Linked DNA regions of Homo sapiens: all the other regions are linked to region 2. The links come from fine-mapping of genetic effects on gene expression. A gene starts in region 2. Each other region holds a variant in brackets. All regions are shown on one strand. Distances are from middle to middle.

The links.
Region 1: its variant is fine-mapped to the expression of AKAP13 in lung (TOPMed, PIP 0.95).
Region 3: its variant is fine-mapped to the expression of AKAP13 in whole blood (GTEx, PIP above 0.99).

Annotation. Positions count from the first base shown.
Region 1 is chr15:85,569,202-85,577,387 of GRCh38, reverse strand. It overlaps AKAP13 (A-kinase anchoring protein 13), which reads right to left. Exons shown (of 37, transcript NM_007200.5): 6 at 2,059-2,257. Among named protein-coding and RNA genes, the nearest start is that of LINC02883, 190 kb to the left of the region's middle. The variant A/G (reference allele first, on the strand shown) is at 4,475.
Region 2 is chr15:85,375,921-85,384,106 of GRCh38, reverse strand. AKAP13 (A-kinase anchoring protein 13) reads right to left here and starts at 3,504. Exons shown (of 37, transcript NM_007200.5): 1 at 3,309-3,504. MIR7706 (microRNA 7706) reads right to left here and starts at 3,511; the gene lies at 3,445-3,511. It overlaps LOC124903546 (a long non-coding RNA gene), which reads left to right. Exons shown (of 3, transcript XR_007064747.1): 2 at 1-44; 3 at 372-431. RefSeq lists silencers at 2,800-2,967, 2,624-3,193, 3,574-3,653.
Region 3 is chr15:85,533,018-85,541,203 of GRCh38, reverse strand. It overlaps AKAP13 (A-kinase anchoring protein 13), which reads right to left. Exons shown (of 37, transcript NM_007200.5): 4 at 7,324-7,620. Among named protein-coding and RNA genes, the nearest start is that of AKAP13, 160 kb to the right of the region's middle. RefSeq lists an enhancer at 7,095-7,174. The variant CAGTACA/A (reference allele first, on the strand shown) is at 5,016.

The DNA of each region.
Region 1 (8,186 bases), 190 kb before region 2:
AAAATATTTTCTCAACACCTAAAATCTATTTTTCCAAACATCTGGTTTGCTCGCCATTCATTCATTACCTGATCTACTGCAATAATATGCATACCTACTGCCATCCATCCTCTCATTCACCTACTCACTCAGTGAATATATTGGGCACTTACAGGGTTCCATCATCAGACCATTCCTATCTACCTACTGAGCCTATTGTAAAAGTTTATATGTACAAGTGTAAAATGTGTCATGCTTGTTAAAGTCTTTCTAGTAGAGTGTACAAGCAAAATGGACTTTCACTAAAAGCTTCTGTGTTAGGCTCCTTAAGAGTATTCAAAATTAGCTTATTTCCAGTCCTGCTGAGAGTACGACAGTCTCCTAAAAATCAGGAAATGAAGTCATTAAATTTAATAAATGGTAAACATTATAAAACAGAAATCTGGCGAAACAAGTAGTGTTGCCTAAAGAAAGTAGCACATGTATGTTCCCACAGTTTTAATTTCTCGTATTTGCCTGCCAACCATTTCCATATCTTGGCAGGTAGCTTTGGTACCTGCAAAACTATATTTTCAAGTGAACTACCATTCACCTAGTAAAAAGAGCTCTAAGGAAAAACCTGATTGCCTAGAAGTCCATTCAGAGGAAAATGAAATGTCACGTGCTCTGGAACAAACACAATTCTAAAACACAAAAGTGGGAGCATCACATAACCCTATGGAATTTCTTGGCTTGCTGGTCTCAAATAATGCATGCTCCCAAAGAAGCCTCTGGCATTGAGCTGACCTTAAATGAAATTACTGTCCAGTGGTTTCCAAATCAAATCAGCTCTGAAATAAACTGGGTGGAAAAATTACCTAAACACAGCCTTTCAGATGTTATGCCCAAGAGAGATGTACACATATGACGTTTATGTTATTCGTAATAAATGCTAACAGGGAGTCTGTAATGTTTTTATGTCTGGCAACAACTTTATCTTGAAGACTTGAGTGGATTATAAAATCTTTTCTGTTTTTTTTAGCTATCTTTGTACCATACAACTATTGATTTAAATATAGTAACACTATATTTAAATGGTACATATCATCGCCACTAAAATAGTTGTAAAAATACTCCTGATTAAATTTGGTTCTTGTTCTTTGGCAACAATCTCAGAAACTGTTGGTTCTTTCATTTTGTAAAGTTAAGCCAAACACAGACAAATATCCTTTTATGCCAGAAATTTAGTTCTAGTTGTTGCATATTTCTGTACCTGAAATGTGTGTCTTCCATTATTCCCAAAACCAATGAAAAAAACCTCTCAGTCCCCCTACGGCTACAACCTTAATGCTAGCTCTGATCTGTAAGTGGTAACATTTAATACTGCTAATACTGCTTTACAGGTCTCAGAATCTTTGGGGAAAGTCCTTCTTTTTCTGTTTTTGAGACAAGGTCTTGCTCTGTCACCCCGGCAGGAGTGCAGTGGTGTCATCTCAGCTCACTGCAACCTCTGCCTCCCAGGCTCACATGATCTGCCTGCCTCAGACCCCCAAGTAGCTGGGACTATAGGCGTACGCCACCATGCCCAGCTAACTTCTGTAGAGCCAGAGTTTCTCCATGTTGCCCAGGCTGGTCTCAAACTCCTGAGCTCAAGTGATCCACCTGTGTTGGCCCTTCCAAAGTGCTGGGATTACAGGCATGAGCCACTGTGCCTGGCCAGGAAAGTTTTTTTTTTTTTGAGACGGAGTCTCGCTCTGTTGCCCAGGCTAGAGTGCAATGGCGTGATCTCGGCTCACTGCAAGCTCCGCCTCCTGGGTTCACGCCATTCTCCTGCCTCAGCCTTCCGAGTAGCTGGGACTACAGGCGCCCGCCACCAGGCCGGCCAATTTTTTGTATTTTTAGTAGAGACAGGGTTTCACCGTGTTAGCCAGGATGGTCTCCATCTCCTGACCTCGTGATCCGCCCGTCTCAGCCTCCCACCAGGAAAGCATTTTTATGTTCTAATTATATCAAGGTTCATTGGAGGAGGGCGGGGACACACACATACAAAACACACACATACACATGCATATACTTAAAAATAAAAGCTTTCTGACTTACCATTAGTTGCTGTTGGATGTTCATAAGTTTAAAAATTGGTCCAGTGCAACCGTCTCCAGGAAATGGGTGTTCATGATGTGAATCAGACTCAGAGGTTAATGTATAGATGTCCAACTCTCGATGATGCCTCACAGAACAGTCTCCATACGGTATTTCATAGGATAAACTGCTCCAGGAGTCTGGTTCTCCAGCATTCTCCCTACATGCAAGCATCTCTGGTTAATATATATACATTCTGCCTCCCAGGCATAGGCTTAACGTTCTAAGTCTTACTTCGTATTTCTAACCTGATTGTTCTTTGAGGTTCAACAGCAAAAATTAGTATATATACCTCCCAAATGATTCAGGCATATAACCAATAGCTCCATCCTCCTCACAAGAGATCACAAATGGGTTAAATGAAAACTGCAGGACTCCTAGCCCTAACAATGTTCTTTAGATCAAGATAAAGAGATATGTGGGATCTAATAATAGTTAATATTATGCTAACAACCAAGTAATGAGGAAGTGCAAGGAAGATGGTTTTAGCCTGATTTTCAACAAAATCAAGGCTTATTAAGAGGTGCTCTTAAAATAAATTAGACCATATGCTAACTACAGTCAATTATAATGGCAAGAGAAGAACCACTCACTCCAACCCTTACAAGGGCACTCCAACTTTTCTAACAATAGGTGCAGAAAACACCCTCAAGATTATTGAAGTCAATTACACAAAGAAAAACTGTTACAATGACATATTGTTCAACACTTGTCAATATAATTATCATATCCTATTTGGAATAAAGCACTTGGTTCCAAGAACTTAAAGTTAAAATTCGTAAAATTTAAAAAACAAGCAAGTTTGCTCAACTCATATCATTATAAACAAATATAACAACTTTCCACCATTATACGCCAACTGATTTGAACAAGGCAAGTGGGTTTCTCCTCTAAAGGCTACAGCACCTCCAATTCCACCCTTGCATCCAGAAGGCATACCCATGCCCGTAATGCCTGCTGTGATACCACACATAATCTGCACTGTGCTTTTTTGCAGCAGATGAAAGAATCTTGGGGCATACAATAAACAGGGATGAGGCACACAATCATACCCCACACAATCTCATATTATTAACTATTGTACTTGAGCACGCATTTCAAGTGTTAAGCACCCTCTTCTACATTCAGCACAAATGTAAATGTCTGAAGTCCTAACCGTTGGTGTCACTATTCTTTCTCATTAGTTTGATACACAGTGTGGTATACAGAGTTAGAGATTTCTGGGTACAAAATTTTATCTCCTAACTATATGATGCTAGACAAATTTCTTAACTTTTCTGAGCCTTAATTTCATAATATGCAAACACAGATATTATAATCTAAGCACTGTTTTGAGAATTAGAGAAAATGTGCATAAAAAACTACATCTATGGTGTTTGACACAGAGAAATCACACACGGATACTGCCTATTCTTCCTCCTTCTACTCTTTCATTCATTTAAAAATAATTCCTAGTAAGCCTTCCCTTCTTAAAAGTAGAAAAACATATCTACTTTTTTCTATTTTTCTACTTGTATCAGAAAATCCTACTTTCTCTGAAAGCTTTAAACATAATGAAAACACTCCTCAAACAGCATTCTGATAAGGTGCCTAGCAGCTCAAAGATCAGGCACAATAATAGATTATGCTTTCCATCAACCCTTTCCTCCTTATATGAAATGTTATTTTTCCTTTCCTTACAACATTAACACCTTTGAATATCCCATATCATATCATATTTATTTATTTATTTATTTATTTATTTTTGAGACAGAGTCCCGCTCTGTCGCCAAGGCTGGAGTGCGGTGGTGCGATCTTGGCTCAATGCAACCTCTAACTCCCAGGTTCATCGATTCTCCTGCCTCAGCCTCCTGAGTAGCTGTGATTACAGGCGCGTCCCACCACGCCCAGCTAATTTTTTTGTATTTTTAGTAGAGACAGGGGTTTTGCCACATTGGCCAGGCTGATCTCGAACTCCTGACCTCAGGTGATCCACCCACCTTGGCCTCCCAACCTATATCACAGTTATTATAATCCCACCAAAGCAAACAATAGATTGGTAAAGTATCCCTGAGATTTTGGGAGGAAGGTTATATTTGAGATCATTATCATGTTTTGAAATAGAAGAAACTAAAGAGTTAAGAAATTACAGACATGCTATCTAGCCACTGAAAAATATGAGAAAGATTACTTCAACTGTCTCTCCAGTTTTTTCTACTAAGTCACACCTGTCTGTCATTAACAATTCACCTGAGACTAATTGGAATTTTAAAGCTAAAAATATGCTACAGTAGCAGCCATAAAAAAGGATGAGTTCATGTCCTTTGTAGAGAAATGGATGAAGCTAGAAACCATCGTTCTCAGCAAACTAACACAGGAACAGAAAACCAAACACCAC[A/G]TGTTTTCACTCATAAGTGGGAGTTGAACAATAAGAACACATGGACACAGGAAGGGGAACATCACACACCGGGGTCGGTCAGGTGGTTGGGGGCTAGGGGAGGGAGAGCATTAGCAGAAATACCTAACGTAGATGATGGGTTGATGGGTGCAGCAAACCTCCACGGCACGTGTATACCTATGTAATAAACCTGCACGTTCTACACATGCATCCCAGAACTTACAGTGTAATAATAAAAAAAAAATTTTTTTTTTAATGCTACAGTGGAAAACGTATAAGGCAATGGAAAATCATGTACTGGCTGACGGTAATAATAATAAAGTGTACTCCAAAAACTACTATTACAACTTCCATACCCAAGAGTGGCTCCCCAAAAGCAGCTTAAAATAAGAATGGCATATGCTATACTACATGTTTTACATATTTTACTAAGTTGCTATACTCTGAGTGAAATGACCTCAAACAGAAAAGCACTTGTAAAATACTCTCGACAGTTCAAAGAAACGACTCAAGAAGTCAAATAGCGGGGAGACAACTTCTCTATCAATGTAGCTTTCAAGCCTACATTGACATAGTCACTAACATGCCTTATTGTGTGGCAGACATTAGTGGCATATCTGCTTAATCAGATTATCACATACAGCCATATTCCAACAAAAAAGATCTCTGAAAACAAAACCTGCTTTATATACCACCACTGAGCATGACCCAAATATAACAAGATTAGAGGACACTGTTTGCCAAGGCAGGAGCAATTAAAAAGTGATACAGTCCATTCTCCATGAAATGGAGTATTCTACCAACCTTCTCAAAATTAAATTTGAGAATTTAATTCTCAAACTGTTCCATTTCTAATATCTAAACCTTGGGAAATCCCTTTCTCTAACCACAGCCTACTTACCTTCTACCTCTCCCACTCTCACCTTCCAGAGGAATGTGCTTTTGTTGTCACAATTACCTCCAGGTACTAACCCTTCAATCTCCCAATTCATGTCCCTGGGGACTTTTGTTGCTTCCTTGTCCCTCTAGATACTAAAGATCAGTCATTGCAAGTATCTTCCCACTGGCTTCCATGAATATCTGTTGCTACTGACACTCTTCCAAACTCATTTCGCCTACAGGTCTGGGTAAGTCCCATCATCCATTCATTCAGCAAGTATGTATGTGCCAGGCACTATTTAAGGTACTGGTGAAGCAAACCAAAATCCCTGTTCTGTCGAACAAGGGAGACAACAGCAATCAAGATAAATAAGTAAAACACCTAGAAGATAGCAAGTGCTACAGAGATTAAAGCAGGAATGAAGGTTGCAATTTTAAATGTGGTGGATCAAGGGTGGCCTCATTAATGTGACATTTCAGAAAATACATTTCCTGCTCTGTGTTACCACCGTATAAAACCTTTACTGGGTCCACTAGTAAAATCTCGCAAAACTCTATGCATAAGAATGTTTACTGCAACTTTTGGCACAACTTCATTAAAAACTGGAAGCAATCTAACCAGTTAGTAACTGAAGCGCTGATTGGTAAATTAAAGAACAGATCTATAGACTATTATGTAGCCATTAAAAATAACTGAAATAAAAGTTCAATAACATTGAAATCTACAAAGTCCTGTGAAATAAGCAAAATAAAAAGTAAAAAAAAAGTACATAAGTCTAGTCTGTAAAACGCACAAATATAAAAAGTATCAGCGTGGTTGAGATATACATTTTACCAATCTTTTTAATAATTGCTTCAAAAGTTCCATTCAGCCAGGCCTCATTGCTGCTCAGTAATCCTTTTACTCACCTGTACACTAATCTTCCCCCACTGGGATTAAAGTTTATATAATTTCCTCTAATGCCAAACATTAACCTTGCCTACTTCATTCTCAAAAGACCTTTTCTCCTTTCTCAGTGATAAGCTTGAGGCCATCTAATGTAAGCCAAAACAACTGTCATTACAAAAAAAAAAAACAACAACAACAATGCATTTCCCCACCCTCTCCAACTTCAGGATACCTCTTCTAGACCGAGGTTTTGCTCTGTTTCTTCCTGCCCTCCTTGGGTCCCTGCTTCAGTAAATCATCCCCTGGCTGCCTGTGGTTTTCCACCCACTTCTGGACTAGCTCCTTCCCCACTCCAGCGGTAGGAATCCTTATTCAACCCTGTCGATCAGTTCTCACCCAAGGAATATGGCCCCCAGGGGACATTTGACAATAACTGGAGGCATCTTTGGTTGTCACAACTCAGGAGTAGGAGGGGATCCTACAAAGCACAGGACTGCTCCCTACAACAAAGAATTATCAGGCCCAAACTCGGTAGTGCTGGCATCGAGAAATCCTGCTGAACGCACTGAAACATGTTCTGTCTTCCTCTTCCTCTTTCCTTCAGGGAGTCTCACCATCTCTACCTCCTTTCCAGCCATTTCAACATTTTAAGGCTTTGTGGTCTGGCTCCTACTCACTTTGGTTTTTGTTTTTTGAGACAGAGTCTCGTTCTGTCACCCAGGCTGGAGAGCAGTGGCGCGATCTCGGCTAACTGCAACCTCTGCCTCCCAGGTTCAAGAGATTCTCCTGCCTCCGCCTCCCAAGTAGCAGGGATTACAGGGCGTGTGCCACCACACTTGGCTAATTTTTCTATTTTTAGTAGAGATGGGGTTTTGCCATGTTGGCCAGGCTGGTCTTGAACTCCTGAACTCAGGTGATCCATCCTTCTCTACCTCCCAAAGTGCTGGGATTACAGGCGTCAGCCACCACACCCGGCCTCCTACTCACTCTGAATGCTACCAAAGCTTTGTCACAGGTATCCAGTGATAAGTAAATATCAAAATCCAGTGGTTTTTTTTTTTTTTTTTTTTGAGACGGAGTCTCGCTCTGTCGCCCAGCTGGAGTGCAGTGGCACAATCTCGGCTCACCGCAAGCTCCGCCTCCCAGGTTCACGCCATTCTCCTGCCTCAGCCTCCCAAGTAGCTGGGACTACAGGCGCCCGCCACCATGCCCGGCTAATTTTTGGTATTTTTAGTAGCAACGGGGTTTCACCATGTTAGCCAGGATGGTCTTGATCTCCTGACCTTGTGATCCACCTGCCTTGGCCTCCCAATGTGCTGGGATTACACGAGTGAGCCACCACACCCGGCCCAGTGGCCTTTCTTTATCCCTGTCAACCCTGAGTTTTGCAGAATTTAAAAATGTTGATCTGGCTGGGCATGGTGGCTCACAGTTGTAATCCCAGCACTTTGGATCACCTGAGGTCAGGAGTTCAAGGCCAGCCTGGCCAACATGGCGAAACCCCCTCTCTACCAAAAATACAAAAATTAGCCGGGTGTAGTGGCGTGCACCTGTAATCCCAGCAACTCGGGAGGCTAAGGCAGGAGAATCGCCTGAACCCGGGAGGCAGAGGTTGCAGTGAGCCGAGATCGATGCATTGCACTGCAGCCTAGGCAACAAGAGTGAAACTCTGTCTCAAAAAAAAAAAAAAAAAAGAAAAGAAAAAAATATGTTGATCTGATTCTTCTTTTAAAATGTATTCTTATTTGCCATCCACAAAAATCCATCCTATACATCTACTGTTTTCCCTGGCTCCTCTTCCTCATCTCCTAGAGGTGAACACATCAATTCTCTGCATTCAGTCCTCTTCTTTCATCTATCCTTTCCCACAGCCCCAATTCACCCCCACAATCTCTTTCTCTTGACTCAAAGTCTCTCTTAGTTCTGCACCAACACTTCCAACTA
Region 2 (8,186 bases):
CTAATGGAAAGATGGAATAAAATCTAAAGAAATGTCCTTAACAGGTAAATATTTCTAGAATGTATCTACTCCATCTAGGTAGTGTAAGTATTCTAAACTATGCTAGTATAACTGATTTAAATCACTGCCTTCTTCTGTAAATGGTGTCACCTTTAAAGTGTTATCTTGAAGAGGAAGTGAGTGATTTGCTCATGTCTCTGTACTGAACTAACACTGTTAACACCCAGTCCAGCTCTACCTTAAACAAGTTTGAGAAATACAGACACAATCCACACTTATTTGCCAAGACTAAGGTAAAATAAAGTTGGAACTCATATCCTCTTATGACTGATGTACTGAAAACAATCCATCTCTCACTGTTGCCCAAATAGCATAGTCACAAAGAGCTCTACCCTACCAAGCCACTCTGCAAGTCCCACTCTCAAAGGAAGACTCACAGGTGACTGAGAAGATAAACTCGCTATTGTTTCCATTATCCTTCAGTTCATCTGGCACCTTTGAAGAAATAGACTTCGATAAGACTCACAAGTCTCAAGGCCCCTTCTTTATGAAAGAAATAGCTAAACCTCTACACTCAGAAGCATCAGACTTTTAAGAATGCTTAAGTCATGTAAAAATGTACCAAAATTATTATCATTACAGCTACTAGGTAATAGCTGCCTACTCCATGTTAGATACTGTAGTTAAGTACCTCACATAGTTTCACTGATTCCTAAGAACACTGTTACTAACGCTTATGGAGTAGGAAACTGAAGCTCTGAGAGGCTATGCAACTAGTCAATGGAAGTGTGGAGATCTGAACGCTACCTAGTTCCAAAGGGTGTACTTTTTTCTAAAATTTCTAATTTTTTTCCAATTTCACAATGGAGGGAGAGTTGTGACTAGATTTGTCCAACAATTTTAATAATTTCACTGGCTGGGTGGAGTGGCTCACGTCTGTAATTCCAACACTGTGGGAGGCTGAGGTGGGAGGATGGCTTGGGTCCAGGAGTTAGAGACAACTGGGCAACAGTGAAGATTCCGACTCTAAAAAAAAACAATAATAATTTCACAAAAAGGGGGGGGCTGATTTCTAAATTGGAACCTCTTGTTGAAATCCTTAGAGCGCTAGTTAAACCCACTTCTTTTCAAAAAATAATTGACAGATTAAAAAAAGGTTAGAAATCCTTTTAAAGTAAATGTCATCACAGATCTGCAAGTGAACTGTCATTCTGGACAGGTCCCCAGTTAGTGGCTCTCTCCTGTGTACGCTAGCTACCACTAGGCAGTAAAAATAATTTACCCAATTCAAACACGTACCGTGCCTGCACTATGTTAAGACTACCGGCAAAGAGGGTAAAAAGCTAAATAAGGTCTATCACAGCCCTCAAGGAGTTAAAGGACTAGAGGAGGAGTCCATTTATAGTATAGTATGTGTGCAGTTACCATTTAGTCAAGGCAAAAGAAGTGTGAGAAATCCTAAAACAATAGTACCTACAGTATAACATGCCATCACCGCCCAGAGAAGGAAAGCAACTAGTGCACTCGTCACGTCATGTTGTAAGTAGTACTTGCTTACATTATGTCCCTCCCTGACAATCCCTTCCAACCTCTGTCAACCTCCTTCCCCACAATCACACACACAAAACCACACAACCAGGAAGGGAAGCCATGGAGCGAGTACTGTGAATCCTAAAAGCGGCTCTGTAATTTAAAAGTGCAATGGCTGTACCTGAAGAAAATTTGTCTTTAGCTTCATCAGGTGAAGAAAATTGGTTTTATAACACAAGGCCCACCAAACCAGAAAAGCCCAGGAACGCTTCTCCACAGGACTCACTTAGCACGAGAAATCACTCTGAGCAAACTGACACACACAGTATTTCTCAAATTTTTCTTTTTCATTTAGCAGATGGTAAAGGAATACAACTGAAGTTAACAATAAATGACACTCTGGCCATTTTGCTCCACTATGAATGACAGACATTTAAGCTAGTTCCATCTGGGGAACTGAAACAGAATCATGTTCATATAATAAGCCACACAAACCAAATTAAGTGTAATATGTGCACCCAAACTTGACAAAACTTGTACTTAATGCAGCCTGCAAATCCCCAAGAGTCCACGACAGAATACAAGAATAGTAACAATGATTTATCTCAACTGATCTTAGCTTCTTCACAAACTTGCCAATAATGACCTTTCAAGAACTGCACCGTTTGTCCTCATCTGCGCAATCCAACAGTTCAGAAAAACTGAAGAAAATGCTTCTTCTAAAAATAAAACACTTGTTGTGGGGGGGACTACTAACAAAAAAAAAGGCACACTGGTTTTTACTGTACTGAAGCAATAAACTCTCCAAATAACTTCATTAAGGAGTGTCATTAGCAAAGAATGAACACCAAAATACCGCTCAATCCAATTTTCATTGTGAATTCCGGGATCTAGAAAATTAAATGGGACGGTATCACTCTGCTATAAGAACTATTTCCAAAACAAAACAAACCTATCTACCCCCTTTCTTGATTTTTTTTTAAAAAGTTTTAGGGTTTTTCCTTTTTTCAACTTCACATACTTCGTGGCTTTGCAAAAAAAAAAAAAAAAAAAAAGCAGTAAACCGTATTTACCAAAAAAAAAAAAAAAAGTTTTGTTTGGTATCAAAGTATAGCTGCAAGCTGAGCCGGCTGGCTGCACGGGTCCCAGAGCGCGTGGGGACCGCACGGGTCTCCTGGGCCGCTCGCCTGCGACCCGCGCGGGTCAGCTGGGCCGCACCCCCGAGAAGCCGCGGAGAGGCACCGACAGGCAGGCGCGGCCCGACGTGTTTACCGTCCGCGTCGACCCCGGGGAGCCGCTCCCTCGCGCCCGCAGCACTTGTTCACGGCGCGGACTCCACGGCGGGGACTCCACACCGCGGCCGCCCGCCCCAGGGGAGGAGTGAGCCCGCCCCGGCGGCGCCGACCCGGGGACCCGGGGCAAGGATTCGGGGCCTCGCTGGGGGCGGAGCGCCTGAGGTAGCATCGGCGGCCGGGCGCGCCCCCCACCCGGAAAGCGGCGACGGCCTCTAAGTTGGGCTGCGGAGTGGGAGGCGCGCCGAGCCCCAAGCAGACAATGCGGGAGAAGGGCGATGCGCAGGGAGGAGGGGTCCGCAGACCTGAGGTCCCGGCGCCGCCCGGCGACCCGTCTGTCCAGCCCGCCCCCGAAACCCCCGCAGCCCCCGCCCCTCCTCCGGGGCCCGCCCCACCGAGCAACCGCAGGGGACTGGCCGCGCTCCGCGCCCCGACCCACAAATCACAAAACTTCCCCCAACTCCGCCAACTAAGTTGCGCTCTCACCGTGCGGCTCCCGGGGCTCCCCCGCGGGCCGAGCTGGGACAACTCTTCACCTTCGCCGCGGAGAAAGACAATAGGCGGCCGCTCCCCCGGAGGCGGCTAAAGCGGCGGCGACCGAGGCGAGCAATGGGCACGGCAGTCTCGGCAGAGCACAGGCGCTTCACCGCGGCTGCTCGGGCTCCGCGCTGGCCCTGCACACAGCTCCAGTCCGCGCATGCGCCGAAAGACGCTCGGGAGGGTGGGCGGGGCACGCGGGAAGGCGGTAACGCCTGCGAGTCCTCCCGTGAGTACACGCGGAGCAAGAACTGCGAGCTGGGATTGCACGGCAGAACTGCCCATCTCGCTGCATGAGACCAATAGTAAGGCTCCTGGACGGGGCACTCAGGTTGCTAAGGGAGGCTGAGGTTGACCGCCGCTGCTGCTCGGCGGCAAAGTGATCAAAGTAGGGTGGCTGGCAGAGGCTGCTCTGGGAAATGCCCACCCACGGTCTCCTCTCCGCCCTGTCTCCAGAAACCGCCCTTCCTCTGTGTACTGGTGGTTACCTGAGCTGCAGCACTTAACCACACATCGTGAAATGATTTACTCCTCTATTTCCCCCACTTCAACTCAGGAAGTGGGGTTTAGTCTTCTGTGTCCACAGCCTAGGACCGTCTAAGGTATTAGGTATTAAATATAGGTATTAAACAAGTGTTGGATGGATGCACGGCGCTATGGCGGAATCACAATTGTGACAGTGCATTCCGTGAACTTCTGGCTACTCGATCACCACAAAGTCATTCCGTGTTCGAGCTGCAAAGGACCTCAAAAATCATCTGGTTGCTTTGGGAAACAAAATGTGGTCCGTGTACCAATGGTGCCGGTAACCACCGGCCCACAGAGGAAGGGCGGTTTCTGGAGACAGGGCGGAGAATATATTAGTTGGTACACGAAGAAACTTCTTTTTTCAAATAGTTAAGTGTTTTTAGTGCGCATTAGGAGGGAAATGCCTATCACGTCAAACCACTGTTTCATTAATGTTATTTCTTAGGTCAAATAAAAAGTGGCAAAAAACGAAAGCACTTCAAGAAAAGTGTTAAGTAAAAAACTGAGACAATTTATATGCAGTTGAAGAACGTGTAAAACTAGTTGATAGTGATTGAAGTAAGAACAGCGGTTAGGTAGGAGGAGAAGATTATTGGCTGGGAAGGAGGAGGAGGGAACCCTCTGGGGTGCTGGTTCTGTATTTTGACCTGGGTGATAGATAACAAAAGTATATACATGAATAAAAAATACATCCAGTGCACTTTAGTGCACTTTGCACATTTTAAACATGTATTTTTAATGTCAGTTTTCAAAAATCTGGTACAGGATATTACCCCCCCGCCCCCAAAAGAAAAGCAAAGATGCAAATGACTGCCATTTGGGAAACACTGATCCAGGCGGCTCACTAGCAGTGACCAAACACCTGAGAAAGGGTATTGTGAATACCTGATGTGTGTGCCAGGAACTTCCATTGTTGAATAGCTCCAAATCTCAGAAATGCTCCTAATGTTGAGCTCTGGTGCTCACATATATTTTCTCTTTTTTTCTTTTTTCTTTTTTTTTTTTTTTTTTTTTTTGAGGCAGAGTTTCACTCTTGTTGCCCAGGCTGGAGTGCAATGGTGCAATCTCAGCTCACTGTAACCTCCACCTCCAGGGTTCAAGCGATTCTCCTGCCTCAGCCTCCCAAGTAGCTGGGATTACAGGTACCCACCACCACACCCGGCTAATTTTTTTATTTTTAGTAGAGACAGTGTTTCACCATGTTGGCCAGGCTGGTCTCAAACTCCTGACCTCAGGTGCTCCACCCACCTCGGCCTCCCAAATTGCCGGGATTACAGGCATGAGCCACCGCACCCGGCCCTATTTTCTTAAGTAACCCTCACCGAATGGCTTTAAAAAAAAAAAAAGAAAAGAAAAGAAAGGCCAAACATGCCCAGTTCTTCATGTGAAATTATTTCTGTATCACTTCATCATGCTGCTCACCCTCTTCCACTGTTCTCTAATCTGTCCTTGTTGATTTTTAAAAACTGGCACAAGGCCTGGCGCGGTGGCTCACACCTGTAATCCCAGCACTTTGGGAGGCTGAGGAGGGCAGATTGCTCGAGCCCAGGAGTTCGAGACCAGCCTGGGCATCAATTGAAACGCCATCTGTACTAACAAATACAAAAATTAGCCAAGCATGGTAGCCCAAATCTTAGCTACTTGGGAGGCTCAGGTGGAAGGATTGCTTGAGCCCAGGAGGCAGAGGTTGCAGTGAGCCAAATCATGCCACTGTACCCCAGCCTGGGTGACAGAGCCAGACCCTATCTCAAAAAAAAAAAAAAAAAGGCTGGCACAGAGAGAGAAGCAGCCTATCATGAGCCGGTCACTTCTCAAAGAACCTGAGTCTTCTGTGAAGCAAGAGTGCTAACCAAGAAAATCACTTGGACCCTAACATTTGATAACCCAGTGAACTTCCCCCTTAGAACCTAGCTTGTTTGTTTCAGAGGCAGCAGTAAATGTTACCATGTCATCTTTCTACGGACACTGACAACACCGTTCCCTGCTCCCCGCCTCAGCAGGATTTACACCTTTCCAGTGGGCTGCAGGAAAAGTTAAGAGTCTAGCACTTCTTGAATTTACTGTGCTTACAAATCACCTGGGAGTGTTTGTTAAATGTGGATTCTGATTCAGTAAGTCTGGGGTGGCATCTGGGATTCCGCATTTCTAAAAAGCTCCCAGGTGCTACTGACGTAGCTATTTTGAAACCCGACTTTTTTTTTTTTTTTTTTTTTTAAGACAGAGTCTCACTCTATTGTCCAGGCTGGAATGCAGTGTCATGATCTCGGCTCACTGAAACCTCCGCCTCCCCGGTTCAAGCGATTATCCTGCCTCAGCCCCCCAAGTAGCTAGGATTACAGGTTCACACCACCACACCCAGCTAGTTTTTGTATTTTTGGTAGAGACAGAGTGTCACCATATTGGCCAGGCTGGCCTTGAACTCCTGACCTTAGGCGATCTGCCCGCCTCGGCCTCCCAAAGTGCTGGGATTACAGGCATGAACCACCATGCCCAGCCTGAAACCCAACTTTGAAGGCAGGAGTCTACCCTAAATTCCCCAAACGGTTGAGCCCTCTGTCCTCCTTGGGAATTCCTAAATTGTTATCTGCATGGCTGATGTCGTCTCATCATTCAGGCCTCAGCTCAAATGATCCTCCTCAGAGAAACCTTCCTTGGCCACCCTCCCTAAATTGACCCACTCTAATCTAGTCCCTCTCTTGCGTATTACTCAGTTTTTTCCATAGCATTTATCTCAATCTGAAAGTACCTTATTTATCTTGTGTGTTTATTGGCTCCTCCCACTATAATGTAAGCTCCTTGAAGTATGCTGTGTTTACCCCCTCTCTCCTGCCCCTCTAATAGTGTCTGGTTCACAGTATGGACTCAATGAATTTCACATTAGTGAACTTGTACAGAAGAAGCTATTACAAGGAGCCTTCAAACTGAGTGTCCCTGATACTAAAGACTTGTTCTTCCAAGGTGTACCAAATATTTCTACATAGTATGCCATATTTCACAGAAAGAGGTTGCAGGTTTAATCATTTCCTCATGTACTCTCAGTAAGTTCGCAAGCCAGGAAAGATGCCTTACTAAACAGTGGTGGGGTTTTGTATCTCTGAACTATCTCTCCATTGACTTATATATCTTCCCAACTGATTTACACAGGTTCTATATAATACCTAAAAATATAACAAGAATAAATCCCATTTTACAGAGAGTTCCTGGCAATGCCAAAGCAAAGAAAAAACAAAATTAACACAGTTAAAAGAGCATAAATTTCTCTTGAAGCTCACACTGTCTAACCTGTCCACTTTGATAATAGAAGCACTGGAACAAGTATATCCCAGTGTTCCTTCACAGCAGTGGACATTGTATTGCATTTGTGATAGAAATAGTGTCCTGATCATGCTTTGAGAGCTTCCACTCTCAGCTCCTTGCTTGGTGTGAAGCCAGCTCTACCACAGCCCCAATTCCATGGCCTCAGCGTGGAATCCAGACCTGACTCTCCTGATGTATCCTATCCACGGGCAACGGTGACTACTTCCAGACTACTCTGCTGGAACTAGGGTCTTGTTTGACTGGAATATTTGTCTCCCTTAAATGGAATCTGGAAGGATATACCTGTCAGCCATCTTGTCACCACAAAGAAAGAACCTTTAGAATGGAACTGGAACAACGGGAAGTAAACAGAGATGAAGAAAAACAGTGTCTTAGTGACACTAGTTGAACTGCTGAATCCGGCAATGTAGACTTTTCAATCCTGTAGGCCAATAAAGCCTGGCACAGTGGAGGTTTCTGTCACTTGCATCCAGAAGAGTTCTAATTGCCACACCACCCATGAGCTGATGATCCCTGGCCAATTCCCTGACAAATGTCTATTGAGAGTTTACTGTGTTCCAGGCATTAGTCATGGTCCTGGGGTTATAGGTGAAGAAGAGGTTACTGTCTTTAAGAAACTCACAGTCAATTGAAGGCAGGCAAACCAGGAAGAAATCAAATGTGTAGGTGCCTTTAAAGAGGCCAATGGAGGGTGTTATGGGGAACAGAGAGGAGTATTTCTCCTAGTTAAAGGATGAAAGTTTAGGAAAGACATCCAAGAGGATGAGACAGATAAGCTGGGTCTTGGAAGACAATCAGGCAGATAAAGAACAGTGGGGTAGTGCAGGAGACTAGGGTGTGTGTGCACAGATAATAGAATGACCTTTCTAGAAAAGGGAAGAGCAAATTCAAAGACACGGCGGTATCAGAAATACAACACACATAAGAAACTGGGTGGGAGATGAAGCTGAGGGCAGGGAGTGGCAGCCAGGTCACGAATGG
Region 3 (8,186 bases), 160 kb before region 2:
AGTTACAATTTTAGGTGATTTATATACAATGAAATACATATGGTATAGTATACCCATTTGATAAATTTTGACAAATGCATATACACGTGAACCCAAATCTGTACCAACATATAGAAAATTACCAATATCCAAAAAAGTTCTTTTGTGCCACTTTCCAGTTAATCCTCTCCTCCTCATTCAGAGTTAACCATTGTTCTGAATTTTTCACCTACATTAGTTTTGCCTGTTCTACAACTCCATATAGATGAAATTATAGAATATACACTCTTGTGTAAGGCTTCTTCGATGAGCATGTTTGAGATTCATCTACATTGCTGCATGTAGCAGTAGTACATTCTCTTTTACTGCTGAGTAGTCCACCGCATGCATATACCCCCAGTTTTAGGTATTCTCCCATTAATTTCTCACACATTTTTATTTGATTCAGGGGTCATGTGAATTAGGTTTGTAGAAGAGGCCAAGGTGCAAAGGGATAAACGAATATATGAATTTAGTTTCCTTTAGTCTGTGTTGTTTTAAGAGCATGAAAGCTTCCATCACTGCTTTCTTCCTTTTGTGTTTAAACTGCAGAGCTCAATCATTTAGGATCAATCTCTGTTCCCTTTTCTCTGCATCAGTACTCCTCTGTAATCTGAGTTACTCAACTTCATTTTTTTAGATCACTAATGGCCTTTCCTACAGTGTCAACTGAGTCCTTTGTCCCCAGTGTGAATTAACTGTGCTTTAGGATTGTGGATGGCTGCATCATTTTTGCCAACTCACTCCCCTTCCATCCTTGTCGTCATAATAATAGCTTTGCCGCAGATGTAATTAAAGCCCCTAACCAGTTGATCTAATAAGGGAGGTTATCCTGGATTATGTGGGCAGGATAATCCCACTGCATCAACTGGAAGGCTCTGAAAGCAGGTCTTAGATTTCCCCTGGAGAGAAGGGATTCCATTCCACCTGTGGAGGACAGCACTAGCCTGTGCCTGTGGAGCTCCATCCTGCCCACGATCTTCCCTTCCTCACGTGATATTTTGGCCCATGTTGGTGGACTGACTTTTGCCCATGATCTTCCCTCCCCCTCCTGCCCTACAAATTTTGGACTTATTAGCCCTCACAATCAAAGGCGCCATTCCTTGTAATAAATCTCAACATATTATTTCTCTTAGTGGTTCTGCTTCTCTACTTGAACACTGACTCATAAAACCTACTTTTCTCCTTGCTGTCTCCTTCTCTAATTTCATAATAAACCTGATTTTATTGAGCTCTTTAAAGGGCAAATGGGAAATATCATCTACATTTTTTTGTTTCTTACAGAAAGCATACTCAGAAAATCTTCCATCTGAATACTTATGATACTTTTCCCTTTTCTTTATGCTGTAATGTTATTCCATAGACCCCATGTTGGCTGGTTATCCTGTTTAACCATACTTAATTGGAAAGATCTCTGTAGGCTTAGCCTCTACCCACAGAGAAGGAAGGCAGAAAATGTCTCACATCCTGCTTTCTATTTACTTATATGCTGGACACACCTGTCACACACCTTCCCTCAGATCTGCAAAAAAGTTGATGTGCCTAGTAGGCATTCAAGCATGATGAGCCTGCTAGAGGGTTGTATCTTTTATAAATGGTCAGATTCTCTAAGTAAAATGTTCTAAGTTCTGAGATCAGTACAATAATCAAGGACTACTCTCCTACCCCATCAATCCCCCCAGCAAGCCCAGCTTACAGTACTCTTTGAATCTATACCTATGATTCCAAAATCACCATTCTTTGTACTATTCTGGACTACCTCTTAAAAAACCTAAAGTCCCACATGATGCAGGAATTCTCAGCTGCATGTGAAAGGAAGGAGAACAGGCCACTGTGAGAAAATGCAGTTGTGGAAAAATGAGACCTGTAACCTTGTAACAAAAACAAGGTTTCAGAGGCAACAAAACCTTTTGGAGCTCAAGTCCTACCACTACTAGTCTTGGGATCAATAAATATTAATCTTCTGCCAAGGGGAAAAAAAAACCACTAGCAGTTTTAAAATATGTTGTTATTTTCTTTTCAGCAGTGATGACAGCTGAAAAAATACACAAACACAGGCCAGGCACAGTGGCTCATGCCTGTAACCCAGCACTTTGGGAGGCCGAGGCGGGAGGATCATGAGATCAGGAGATCGAGACCATCCTGGCTAACATGGTGAAACCCCGTCTCTACCAAAAAATACAAAAAATTAGCCTGGCGTGGTGGCGGGCACCTGTAGTCCCAGCTACTCAAGAGGCTGAGGCAGGAGAATGGTGTGAACCTGGGAGGCAGAGCTTGCAGTGAGCTGAGATCGCACCACTGCACTCTAGCCTGGGGGACAGAGCAAGACTCCCTCAAAAAAAAAAAATACACAAACACTAATGTAGCTACGAAAAAATATTTATGAAAAGCTATCAAGGCCGGGCGCGGTGGCTCAAGCCTGTAATCCCAGCACTTTGGGAGGCCGAGGCGGGAGGATCACGAGGTCAGGAGATCGAGACCATCCTGGCTAACACAGTGAAACCCCGTCTCTACTAAAAATATAAAAAATTAGCTGGGCGTGGTGGCGGGCGTCTGTAGTCCCGGCTACTCGGGAGGCTGAGGCAGGAGAATGGCATGAACCTGGGAGGCGGAGCTTGCAGTGAGCTGAGATCACACCACTGCACTCCAGCCTGGGCGACAGAGCGAGACTCCGTCTCAAAAAAAAAAAAAAAAAGAAAGAAAAGCTATCAAACACTCTGAAAGGAGGTGGGAACTGAATCATCAAATGATTATGGTGGGCGACCTATTAACCAATATCAGATGTATAGAATTGGGAATACACAGGCTGTTCTTACTGCAGTTTTTCCTAAACCTGTCTTCCACCTCTCCACCCAAATTTCTCTTTGAGGGGAGAATTCTTGCCCCCAAAGATGATCAGATCTCTTTTTCACTTGGTTATACAATATCATGAGTAAATAAGAATGAAGATTCCCCCAGGATGTTTCTCCCTGCTTCCTCTAGAGCAAGTCTGCAGTGGGCCCACCCTACATTACCTGGGAGTTATGCTGACGGCTACTGCACAAGGGTCTCTCAGGGAAAACACCCCCCTAGCTTACCATTTTCACTAACCACCGAGCTGAGAAACTAAGTGAGACTTGGAAAACTCAGAGAAAAAAATGTCCTTACCCCACCATTCACGCCACACCCAGATGAATCCTTATCACCTGCATTTAAGGCAGAACTGTGGCAAACAGTACAATGTGTAGAAGCTTGTTTATATAATTAGGGATGAGAGAACATTTGGAAGATTTAAAAGGACAAACTCCCTCCTGTTCATATTTAAAGTGAAGATTAATTTTTGTAACAAGTAAAACATCAATGTTTTGTGTCTCCAAATGGTACATTCAAAATGAATAGCTTATAAACTAGCACACATTATCAGAATACACTTTCCCCCATTTCACAGATGAGGAAATTAAGTAACAGAGAGATTGAGTATTTTGCACAAACTCTTGCAATGAAGCCAGGATGCAAACAAACTGACTCCAATGCCCCTGCTTTTCCCACTTTGTAAGAGCAAAGTTAAACCCAGAATTCTTAACTTTATGCTCATGCCTGAAGTTCAGGGAGACTTAAGAAATTTATCATATGTAAATGTGTGCACATAGGCACCTATAAACATTTTTTTCTGAGGAGAAATCTGAGCAATTTCCAAAGGAGTCACTGACCTGAAGAAAGCTAAAAAGCACTGCAACTAAACAATTAAAACAGTAGGAGGATTAGCCATAAATCTTACATAAACTACTTTGTCTAAGTATTAGGCTAGAATATCTCTAAACATCCTAGCTTTCAACAGCAAGAAGTCCTGTTATGTAACAAGGTGCCTTATTTACCTGTATTACCTCAGGCATCATGGTTACTTTGTACCTTTCTCCTTTAAATACCTATTTAAAAGTATTTATGTGCAACTCATTGATGTGAACAGACTATTCCATTACATTTGTCCCTCAACAGCAGGCGTGATGAACTCTTAACTGATGCTTCTCTCCCTTACTGTACCCAGTGTTCCCAGATTCTAATCATCAATTAATAGAACAATTTAAACTGCAGAATGTGAACTGAGCACAGAAAATCAGATTCCTCATCCCAGTTGTTGACTTAAAGACACTTCTATCAAGTCACTTGCATGCATTTCACCTTGCAAAGTATACAACTTACACAATTTCTTTTGTTATTTTATTATTTTAAATATATGTACAATAAAATTCACCTTTAGGGGATGTACACTCCTATGAGTTTTAACACATGCATAGATTCTTACAGCCACCACCACGAACAAGACAAAACAACTCCAACAACCCAAAGAATTCCCTCATGATACCTCTTTCCAGTCAGACTTCCCCCACTCCCAGCCCCTAGCAACTACTCATCTGTTCTCTTTTTCTATAATTTTGCATCTTCCAGAATATCATATAAATAGAATCACATAGTATGGAACCTTTGGAAACTGACTTCATTTTCCCGCATAATGCATTTAAAACACATCCAAGTTGTTGCACATGTCAACAGTTTGCTTCTTTTTATTGCTGAGTAGTATTCCACTGTATGGATATATTATAGTTTGCTTCTGTATTCACTCAGTGAGGGAAATCTGGGTTATTTCCAGTTTTTGAAGATTATGAATAACATTACTATGAGCACGTCCGTGCACAGACTTTTTGGTGACTACAGATTTTCATTTCTCTAGGATAAACACCCAAAAGTGGGATTACTGGGTCATACGCTAAGTGTATGTTTAACTTTACAAGAAACTGCCAAATATTTCTAGAGTGGTTATACATTTTGCATTCCTACAAGCAACATATGATATGTTCTTCATCTTTGCCAGCACTTGGTATTCTTCATCTTAGCCATTATGATAAATGTGTAATGATATCTCATTGTGGTTTTAATATGTATTTCCTTCCTCAAGTGTTCAAATTTGGTTTGGCCTTTGTTAGCACTGCTTGAGCAATTTTGTGCAACAGAAAATTTAC[CAGTACA/A]CTGACAGTACAAAAAAAAATTAAAGCTGGCCAATTCCCTCCTATTAAAGACAAGGAAGTTAAGGCCCAAAGAGAGGAAGTGGCCGGGCACAGTGGCTCACGCCTGTAATCCTAGCACTTTGGGAGGCTGAGGCGGGTGGATTGCCTGAGCTCAGGAGTTCAAGACCAGCCTGGGCAACATGGTGAAACCCCGTCTCTACTAAAACACACAAAAAAGCAGCAGGGTGTGGTGGCATGTGCCTGTATTCCCAGCTACTTGGGAGGCTAAGGCAGGAGAATCGCTTCAACCCAGGAGATGGAGGTTGCAGTGAGCCGAGATTGCACCATTGCACTCCAGCCTGGGCGACAGAGCAAGACTCTATCTCAAAAAAAAAAAAAAAAAAGAGAGAGAAAGAGGAAGTGATATGTCCAAAGTTTCAGATGTTTGCTTTTTCTAATAGTTGTTTTTAATCATGGCAACATAAAACTATCCAACTCCTGGGCCCCTCTTTAAACAAGACAAAACAAAACCATAAAACACCATAAGCCCCACAAATAACTAATGCAGTACTATCTTGACACTGATTTGTGAAAGGCAGCCAGAATAAACATTCCTGTATCAATACAGAAATAGGAGGAGCTAGAGGTATTAAGGCCCATCACCAGGTTTATATAAGGCATGAGTGCCTTTTCAGAATGTCAAATATTCTGATCTCTAAATATTAGCAAGACAGAAGTTTCTTGGACACTATACTTAAAAAAAGAAGAAGAAAAGGATAAATCCTTTCTTCCTTGATTTGATACTTCCTTTCAGGTTTTACCTGGGCAGGACTATCCAGGTAGAATCTGACAGTATGCACCTGACAGTATGGGACACCGTTCTGACGGCTGACCACAGGTTTAACTGTTAAATTTAGTGTAGATTTAAGAGAATCAAAGCTGGCAAAGACCTCTTTACCATTCTTCCATGGAAGAAGACAAAATTCATCTGAGTGTAGAAACTAACTATGCTATGGCTCAGGCCCCTCTGGGTATTTCTCCTCAGGAACTGCTCACCTGTGGGGAGAGTGACTTGTGGTCTGCTTACCCAAAATAATTCAATACTCAAGGCTGGGTGGACTCTACAGGGCAATGGTGTGACTGACCAGCTCTTTCATTGAAGACATAGAAAGTACAAGCAGACCCTTCTGGCAGGAGCTCTAACATCAGGCTTCCAATCTAGATTTCATCAGTAATAAACATTTTGGTTTCTATCTCAGGACTCCCAAATCGTTCAATTGGACTTGAACTCAGAAGGGAAACTGGATGTTACTTATTGAACTCCAGGTACACATTATGTTTCATTAAAAAATATCTATACAATTATGACATCAAGTAGATGTCATTGGCTACTAGAATTATGTGGGAAAACCCTTGTTTGAGTAAGAGGACTTACTATGTAAATATTTTTGAAAAAGTGGAGTTCTGGCCGGGCGCAGTGGCTCATGCCTATAATCCCAGCACTTTGGGAGGCCGAGGTGGGTAGATTACCTGAGGTCAGGAGTTCGAGACCAGCCTGACTAACACGGTGAAACCCTGTCTCTAATTAAAAAAAAAAAAAAATTTGCTAGGCATGGTGGTACATGCCTGTAATCCCAGCTATTTGGGAGGCTGAGGCAGCAGAATCACCTGAACCCAGGAGGTGGAGGCTGCAGTGAGCCGAGATCATGCCACTGCACTCCAGCCTGGACTACAAGAGTGAAAGCCCGTTCTCAAAAAAAAACAAAAAACAAACAAAAAGTCCTTTCTTCAGTGAACTCTCATAGGGAGGGCCAACAGATAAAGTCAGTAAGAGTGACACTAACCTGGTTAAGGAAGTGTGTGGTTTCTCAGAGCACACCCTGTTCTCATGCTCCTCCCACTCACTGCCCAATCTTTCCTCTCCTTCACTTCCAGGCTATCTTTAGAGAACTTCAGAATACAATAATGAAAACCATGTCTTTGATCATTAAACACCAAAAAGTAACTCTGCTACTCTCCTCATGAAGAGCATGTCACTTTCTACACTTGAGAGATCAAATCTGAAATCCAGACCCACAGGAAGGTGACGTGCCACTCTCCTTGGGTAATCCCTAGGGTCATTTCGCTGCAACAACATGCTTAACAGCTCAATTGAAGAACCTAGAAGAGATGCCATTGAGGCCACTTTCCTACAGTAATTCTAAGATTTACGCAGCCTCTGTGGAAGACCTGAATATGATGACCATAGAAAAGTAGCCCCATTAAAAAAAAAGTAGAAATATCACAAACTTAAAGTGTGTTTGTAGATCATATAAATTCTCACCATGCAAACTCTGATCTGTCCCCAATACATTCCACTCCGTGGGCAGCTTCAGGTGCCTGAATGCCAGCACCAACTTCTTATCAAGGGAATTCACATCCCCAGATGGGGGTCCTGACTGGTCAAGAAAACGGGTAAAGTTCAAAGCCTGCTGATTTCCAGCACTGGTTGCTAGGAATTGAGCTGCATCATACGCTTCATCCTGGACGAAATGAAAGTCTTCTTCAGCCACCACAAACACGGGAAGGCCCTCTTTGGAAGCACAGAGCTGCACCTTCACTGTTTCACAACAATCATGACCTAAAGGAAACACAGGCAGCAAATAAAACAGTATTAGAGCCTCACTGCTGAAAGGACGCTAGTGGATCCTCTTAGCTCTTATTTCACGACATACAAATTTCTCCTCCTAAAAAACACCCCCTCCTTCCTCTTGAGCTCTGACAGCATTTTTCCAAACTTCTTAAAACTCCATTTTCAGCTTTTAACATTATTTGCAAATATGAATTCCCTTAACAAAAAACAAAAAACTTTGTATCCCAGCTTTCACCATGCCTATAACATGGTATCTGGAACCGAACAGGCTCTGAATGTCAACAAGGGCTATTCAATTTGAACATATTTAAGAATGAAAGCTGAAGGACCTTCAAGGCATAGCATATGATGGAAAGTCCAATAGCTACTGAACTAAATTAGATCTGAAAACATAACAGGAAAAAATATCACTCATACAAGTTATATAGCAAGAATTTTACAGATTCACTAGCACTTGCTTTATTATCACGATACAAAGGCTCACATGATGAAGCACTTGGAAAAGTACATAATTACTTGATTTTATTTTACTACTATGAGCAATCCAAGGCCTA